2 linked regions of the Homo sapiens genome follow. The protein of the gene in region 2 interacts with the protein of the main gene of each other region in a pairwise test. Each region holds a gene or a part of one and is shown on either strand. Other genes may lie near its edges.

Region 1 (3,777 bases), on a different chromosome or scaffold from region 2:
TAATATTTGACCTTTTTTGGCATATCGTTAAAATTACAGGAAAGCCTATTTTCAGTCAGTCACACCCGTCGTAGGCTTCATCATTGCCTCATTTTGCATTTCCCTCTTTTTGGACTTTATTAGATTATTTTTCTCTTCAGGTTTTTATGCAGACGTGTCCTGTGCTTGGGTGTGTGCTCATGTGGTGGTGACCGCGCTGAGCCTCTGGGCTCTGGGCTCTAGGCTGGTCGTGACACCAGCTTCTCCATAGGGCCGTCTGCTTACCCCTCAGCCTCTCTGGCGAGACAGTCAAGTGTGTGTCCGGACACCAGCTGCTGCGTAATCGGTGGGATAAAGCAGCCGCCTCGTGTTCACAGACCTGTGGGCAGGGCCTGCTGGGGATGGTTTTCTCTGCTCCCCGTGCCCAGCACAGGCAGCTTCACCCCACGCTGGTGGTCGGCACTGGCCTCAGCCGGACCACGCACAGAGGCCTCCTGGGTGGCCATCGTGTGGCCTTCTCGTAGCGTCCCAGGTGGGCAGGGAGTGTGTGATATGTTTGTGATCTCGCTGTGGACATTGGCCTAAAGCCCTGCCCTGAGCTTTGTCCAGGCTTAGGCGGGGGACGGTGTCCCCCTCAGGGAGCAGGTGGAGTGGAGGAAGTGGCGGGGCCATCTTTGGAGTGGCTTATAGAGAAATTCACTCCAAGCCTGGCTTCCGTGTTGTCTCTCTGAAGGTCGGGAGAGGTGGGCTTGAAAACCTTGTAGCTTGAGAAGTGGGTGCCGCCTGTACGAAGCCGAGGCGGTGCCCTCCCTCTCCACAGCTGCCCGCCCTTCACAGAGTCCTGGCGGCAGCTCGGGGCCGCAGGTGGTGTAGAGCGTGGCTGTGTGGGGTGGCAGGCAACTCCCTTCTGACGCGCTTTCCCGCCACAGGCTTTACTGCAGATGGTGCGTGACGAGAGCCACCAGATCCTGGCGCTGTCAGAAGGCCTTGCACCCCCAAGCGGCGAGCCACACCCACCCCGGAAGGAAGACGAGATACAGGACATCTCGCTCCATGGGGGAAAGACGCAGGTTTATTTTGCCCTTCACACACTTCTTTTCCAAAGGATTTAAGGAGCTTGTGGTAATGGCCGCGTCCTTAGGGCCACGTGGACACTAGGATTTCTTTCTTTTTTTTTTTTTTTTTTTTTTTTTTTGAGACTCGGCTCACTGCAACCTCCACCACCCCGGGTCAAGCAGTTCTCTGCCTCAGCCTCCCGAGTAGCTGGGATTACAGGTGCATGCCACCATGCCCAGCTAATTTTTGTATTTTTAGTAGAGACGGGCTTTCACCATCTTAGCTAGGCTGGTCTTGAACTCCAGACCTTGTGATCCACCCGCCTCAGCCTCCCAAAGTGCTGGGATTACAGGCATGAGCCACCGTGCCTGGCCTAGGATTTTTTTTAGCACGGCCAAAAAGACTGAGGTCCAAGAACCCTGGGGAGGCCTTCCCATCTCCCACAGCCAGCGCAGGCTCTCGGGGCAGGTTCCCTGCGGGACGTGGAGGTGTGTGGGGGGCAGAAGGGCTCAGGGCTTTCAGGCCTGTGCCCTGTGTGAGCCTGCGGGGAGGCTGAGAGTGGTCCCTCCTGGCCATGTGGCCCTGCGGACTCGGCCCATTCCAGCACTTGTCCCCCAGGGCCTCTCCTCCTGCCACTCGGGTGACTTGCCCTCCGGCCTCATTCCTCCCCTTGGGTCTCTCCTACCTCCCCCTCCACACCCCAAGCCCCAGCAACTGGACCTCAGGGCCTCACCTCTGTGCTGTCGACCCCGCACCCCACTTTTCCCCAAGTCCTCCCCATCTCCCTGCCTGTCTGCTTCCATCACCAGGGCTTGTGGAGGTTGTGGAGTGGGTGCCAACTCCCATCACGCTCCCTCCCATCTCCGTGCCCACCCTGTCCTGCCCCTGTGCCTGCCTCTGACTGGGATCAAAGCTTTGTGAGGGAGGGAAGGGCTTTCTCCCTGTGCCTGGAACGCACAGGGTGTGCTGGTGCCATGGAGAGCCGGTGGGAGGGTCAGCCCCACCCGCCTCCGCTCGCCCCTCCAGCAGGCCCTGGTTGTGTGCGAGCGGCAGCCTGGCTGGCATTCAGGAGGCTCATTGGTGCTGCACGCTGCCCCTGGGGACCAGCGGGTAGCCCCTTGCAGCCTTAGGTCCCCTCCAGGCCCTGGGCCTTGAAGGCACAGCAGCAGGAAAAGAGGGAAGGAGCTTTGCTGACATTTTCCTGACCTTACTTTATCGTCTTTTTCAGTCTCTTCTGTGCTCATGATGGCAGCCTTTGCTTCTCGTGCCTTGAATGGCCCTGGGCAGTGTGTGTCTTCTCTTCTGTCAGGGTCATTTCTGTTTGAACGGCTGTCAGTCTGCTCAGCTGCCGTAACAGAACACCCCAGACCAGGGGGCTTAAACAGCAGACATTGATTTCACCTGTTGTGGCATCAGGGTGCCCACAGGGTTGGATTCTGGTGTAGGCGCCCTTCCTGGTTTGCGGACAGCGTCTCCGTGCTGTGTCCTCATATGATGGAGACAGCGAGTGAGCTCTGGTGTCTCTTCCTCTTCTTAAGAGGCCTCATTTACCCTGAATCACCTCCCGCAGGCCCCATCTCCAAACGCAGTCACACTGCGAACTTTAGGGCACAAGGATGCAGGTGCATTTGTGAGGACGCCACGTTTCTTCCTTCTTCCTTTAGGAAGTGCCCACCGCGTGCCCCGATTGGAGAGGGGACCTTCTGCAGGTTGTGCAAGAGGCCTTTGAAAAAGAGCAGGAGATGCAGGGGGTTGAGCTGCAGCCCCGACTCAGTGGCTCAGATCTGGGGGGTCACAGCTCCCTGCTCGAAAGGCTGGAGAAGATCATCCGTGAGCAGGTGAGTGTCAGCTCTGCCACCAGGCCTCAGTTTGCCCCAGGGGTCCAGCCCTGGCAGAGAGGGTGACACAGACTGTTTTGTGTGTGAATTTCGGTTTGTGTGTTTCTCTCGACCGCTGGAATGTGGCTGTCACTTACCCAGGTGTTGACGCTCAGTCCATGCAGGATGCTGCACTTTTCCACCTGCAGCTGTAACAGGACAGGTGTGCTCGAGATGCACCCTCAGGCCTCACTCTTTTCTGAGATAGGTGGCTAAAGAAACGTTCTCCATTCCAAGTAGCCCCTCCTAGGTTGAGAGGTGCTCTGTGTGCAGGGCTGGGTGGCGTTGGTGCCGTGGGGACACTGGAAATCCTGTTCCTGCCAGCATACACGAGGAAACCTAGTGTTGAGAGTAACTGGCTTGCAGGCCTCACGCAGGGTAGTGCAGCCCAGCCCTGACGCCTGCAGGCCCCAGAGCTGAGGCCCAGCAGATACTGTGCACCCATCCCAGACTCAGCAGGCTTGTCCCGGCGGAGCTGGTTTTGAGGGCGGGCAGCAGGGAAGGCCGGGGCATGGGGTGGCTGCCCAATGCTCAGGCTGCTTGTCCCATTGTGCCCCCAGGGAGACCTGCAGGAAAAGTCCCTGGAGCATCTTCGCTTGCCGGACCGGAGCAGCCTGCTGTCCGAGATCCAGGCGCTGCGTGCCCAGCTGCGCATGACGCACCTGCAGAACCAGGAGAAGCTGCAGCACTTGCGCACGGCGCTGACAAGCGCAGAGGCGCGCGGGAGCCAGCAGGAGCACCAGCTGCGCAGGCAGGGTGGGTGTCACTGTCTACACTGCCTGGGGCCCGGCCTCTGCACCTGCCCGCCCGACACTCACCTGTGTGGCCTTGGGAGCAGAGGGTGGTGACAGGGCATCATCTAGTC
Region 2 (3,777 bases):
ATTAGAGACAATCAAGTAGTGTGGCAACGGAGCAAATGGACAGGTTCAGGCAAAGTTCTTTTCTTTAGAAGCCCACTCTGAAGACTTTCATCTTGGAGAGGAGAGCAGGAAAGGTGTGGAACAATAACAGGAAAGCAGACTCGACCAGACTCGACACGGCTCTCAAGTTGAAGTCTTCCACCGGTCCAGCACAATACACAGAGATGTTTCATCCCTTTCATCTCTCCTGTTCCAAATGACCTATGATGTGTGCCCCCCATACTTGAAATAAGAAGGCAATCTTCTAATTCTTACTATAGAATAAGTGTCCTAACTGATCGTGAATGCAAGAAATACTGAAGAAAAAATCTGTTTGACATAATCTCTTTTGATTAACACATGGAACATTTAGAAAGGAGCAGGTATGAGCCATAAGATTCCAGAAACTGAAGTGTTTTGTTTTGTTTCGTTTTTGTTTTTGTTTTTTGAGATGGAGTCTCACTCTGTCGCCAGGCTGGAGTGCAGTGGCGCGATCTCGGCTCACTGCAACCTCCGCCTCCCAGGTTCAAGCAATTCTCCTGCCTTAGCCTCCTGAATAGCTGAGACTACAGGCGTGCACCACCACACCCAGCTGATTTTTTTATTTTTATTAGAGACAGAGTTTCACAATGTTGGCCAGGATGGTCTCGATCTCTTGACCTCATGATCCGGCCACCTTGGCCTCCCAAAGTGTTGGGATTACAGGCGTGAGCCACCACACCTGGCCTGTTTTGTTTTTGAGACATGGTCTCACTCTGTTGCCCAGGCAGGAGTACAGTGGCACGATCTCAGCTCACTGCAACCTCCGCCTCCCAGGTTCAAGCGATTCTAGTGACTCAGCCTCTTGAGTAGCTGGGATCACAGGCAGGCACCACCACACCCGGCTAATTTTTTTTTGTATTTTAGTAGAGATGGGTTTTCACCATGTTGCCCAAGCTGCTCTTGTACTCCTGAGCTTAAGCGATCTGCCCACCTCGACCTCCCAAAGTGCTGGGATTACAAGCATGAGCCACCATGCCCAGCCTGAAACTGAACAGTTTATCATTATAACCCAGACCAATACAATCTGTTTAATTCACAGGAAGGTGTGGTGGCTCATGCCTGTAATCCTAGTACTTTAGGAAGCCAAGGCAGGAGAATCACTTGAGGCCAGGAGTTCAAGACCAGCCTGGGTAACACAGTGAGACCCTGCTCTATTTAATTAAAAGAAAAATTATAGTTTCAAAAAAAAAATCTACTGGCCAGGAGCGGTGGCTCACGCCTGTAATCCCAGCACTTTGGGAGGCCGAGGCGGACGGATCACCTGAGGTCAGGAGTTTGAGGCCAGCCTTACCAACATGGTGAAACCCCATCTCTACTAAAAATACAAAAATCAGCAGGGCATGGTGGCGTGCGCCTGTAATTCCGCTACTCAGGAGGCTGAGGCACAAGAATTGCTTGAACCCGGGAGGCAGATGTTGCAGTGAGCCGAGATTGTGCCACTGCACTGCAGCCTGGGCGACAGAGCAAGACTCCATCTCAAAAAAAAAAAAAAAATTAAATTAAATTAAATTTTCTAAAAATCTATTTAATTCACAATTTCTTCTCGTAAGGAAACATTTTGTAGTTGGCCAGAAGACAATATATGGGTTGAGAGATCTTTCATCTTTAAAAGAAAAATTAAAAGAAAGGTAAACGACTGTTACAATTAGCCAAAATCTAACCTAAACCCCAGTCAAAACTGATACACATTTTCCCCATGCTTAAAACAGTGACAAAAACCTGTAAATCACTTTATTTGATAGAAAAGAGTTAACCTAAGTTAAGTAAATAAACCATCATTTCTTATGATGTAGCCAGTTCATAATACACAAATATGCAAAATAAAAATTTTTTTCAATCCAGCTAGTGATCAGTAGATTTAATAAGTCACCATTTTGTAACCACCAAATTCAGTTTGTTTGCTTGTTTGTTTTAAAAAAAAACTTTTAAAATGTTGATCCTCACTGAGGGCACATTTGCACTATTACAGGTACGTGTACTGATACATTGCTAAGAAAAGAGTAAATTGGTGCAGCCCTTTTGGAAAAAGTTGGCACCAGACATCAAGAATTCTAAAAATGTTTATACTCTGACATGTTCATGTCACCCTGAGAATATATCTTAAAGACCACAAAGTGTGTATAATTATGGCAACCTTATGTTCCAGATTTTCTAAGAAGGTGTTCACTGTAAATAATTGTGTTCTTTTCAATAAAGGCAAATCAGTAAGTTAGTAACTAAGTTTGAGAATAATGGAAGTCATCCATATCATAGAAAAACAAAGAAAACGGGTTCTGCATGGGGTCAAACATGCACAGAAGTGTTCTGGTTTCTGTTTGAAATGGAGAGTTGAGGAAAAAAACTCAAACTCACCACATATTAACTTTTTACAAGATGGAACTTGGTTCAATCCATTATTCCCTCCACAGTTGCTGAGCTGCCTCTGTAGGGCCCCAGGCACCATGCCTATTCTGGAGACATGGTGATGAAAAGGCAAATCTTTCTTAAATGCAACAGGCTCCTCTCCCCAGCCCGCAGCAGCACCCAGACATGCCAGTGCCCAGACCTTATTTTTCTTGTTGAATCTTCTCACCACCCACACACAGGTCTCCATGGTACAGCATGACAGCTCTTCCTATAATTCTGATATAAATCCTCCTTTTATCCAGAGTCTTTGGTCACAAACCGTAATACATACATGTGAAATGTTCCCAAATCTTGAGTAGACACTCAAGATTATGCCTGTGAGAAAACTCCTTTCCATGAAAACACAGAAGAAACTACTCTCTTTTCTTATCAAACCCCCGAAGTACCCACCAGGGCATTCGGCATGGGAAATCGGGTTAGAACTGCCGCAAGGCACTGCTCCCTCAGACAGCCCACCACCTGTGGCTGGCATAACGGCCCTGGACTTGCTGCCTGCTTTCCCTCTGTGCCACTAGGCACCCACCCCTGCAGTCACCCCAGCTCCCGAGGCATCACACCATCCACAGACCACAGGGTTAGTCCTCCTGAGGTCCCTCTGTGTGTTATGACACCACACCTAACCCGGCACAGAAACCAGGCTGAACACCCTGACAGTCTCCTGTGGCCCATGAAGATTGGGGGGGCCGCTGGGGGTTAGGGGAAGAGGAGAGATGGAAGGAAGTTACTAATTAAGAGTGATCTTGAAAGCCTCGGGTGCTAAGGGTCTTTTTTCTTTTTACCCCTGTCCTGAGTATTCCCTTATATCCTTCCCTCAAAGGCCAAAGCTAGAGACAGCAGATACGTTTTTATGCAATTGGACCTCAATGCTTCTCGAAATATGCGAATGAACAACTTTCTTGAATGTCTTACCCCACCACTCTTCCTCTACAGAGAAAGTGAAACCTCGTTTTTTTAATTCTTGCTGAAAACACTGCTATTTTAACTTGAAATTTGTTCTTTCTTGTTTTAGATAATGAATTAGTTCTACCTTTCCTGCTTTAGATAATCAATCTGGGAACTCAATGTAAAAATTACATCAAAGGCAAATAAAAAGTAAGGTATTTCAGAAGCTGAATAAGTAAAGGACATTTGCAGACGTCTCTTCCTTTTCATTTGAAAACTCACCTAAAAATTATTTTAAAATTCTCTGTTGACAACTTCCCTAATTGAAGCTAACTTCTTGAAAGGAACAAAAATAAGACATGCATTTGCTATAATGAACATGATAGACTCCAGCAACTTTCATTTTAAATGTTTATATAGAAATTATGC

What was found. Proteins that work in one complex are often made in the same cells at the same time.
Region 1: the proteins of CYTH1 (region 2) and PCNT interact in a two-hybrid assay, tested with the Homo sapiens proteins (one large-scale study listed by BioGRID and IntAct).

Annotation. Positions count from the first base shown.
Region 1 is NC_000021.9:46,424,923-46,428,699, forward strand, and holds part of PCNT (pericentrin), read left to right. Parts: intron 1-908; coding exon 909-1,049; intron 1,050-2,699; coding exon 2,700-2,873; intron 2,874-3,472; coding exon 3,473-3,668; intron 3,669-3,777. UniProt on the Homo sapiens protein: Integral component of the filamentous matrix of the centrosome involved in the initial establishment of organized microtubule arrays in both mitosis and meiosis. Plays a role, together with DISC1, in the microtubule network formation.
Region 2 is NC_000017.11:78,772,091-78,775,867, forward strand, and holds part of CYTH1 (cytohesin-1), read right to left. Parts: intron 1-3,777. UniProt on the Homo sapiens protein: Promotes guanine-nucleotide exchange on ARF1, ARF5 and ARF6. Promotes the activation of ARF factors through replacement of GDP with GTP.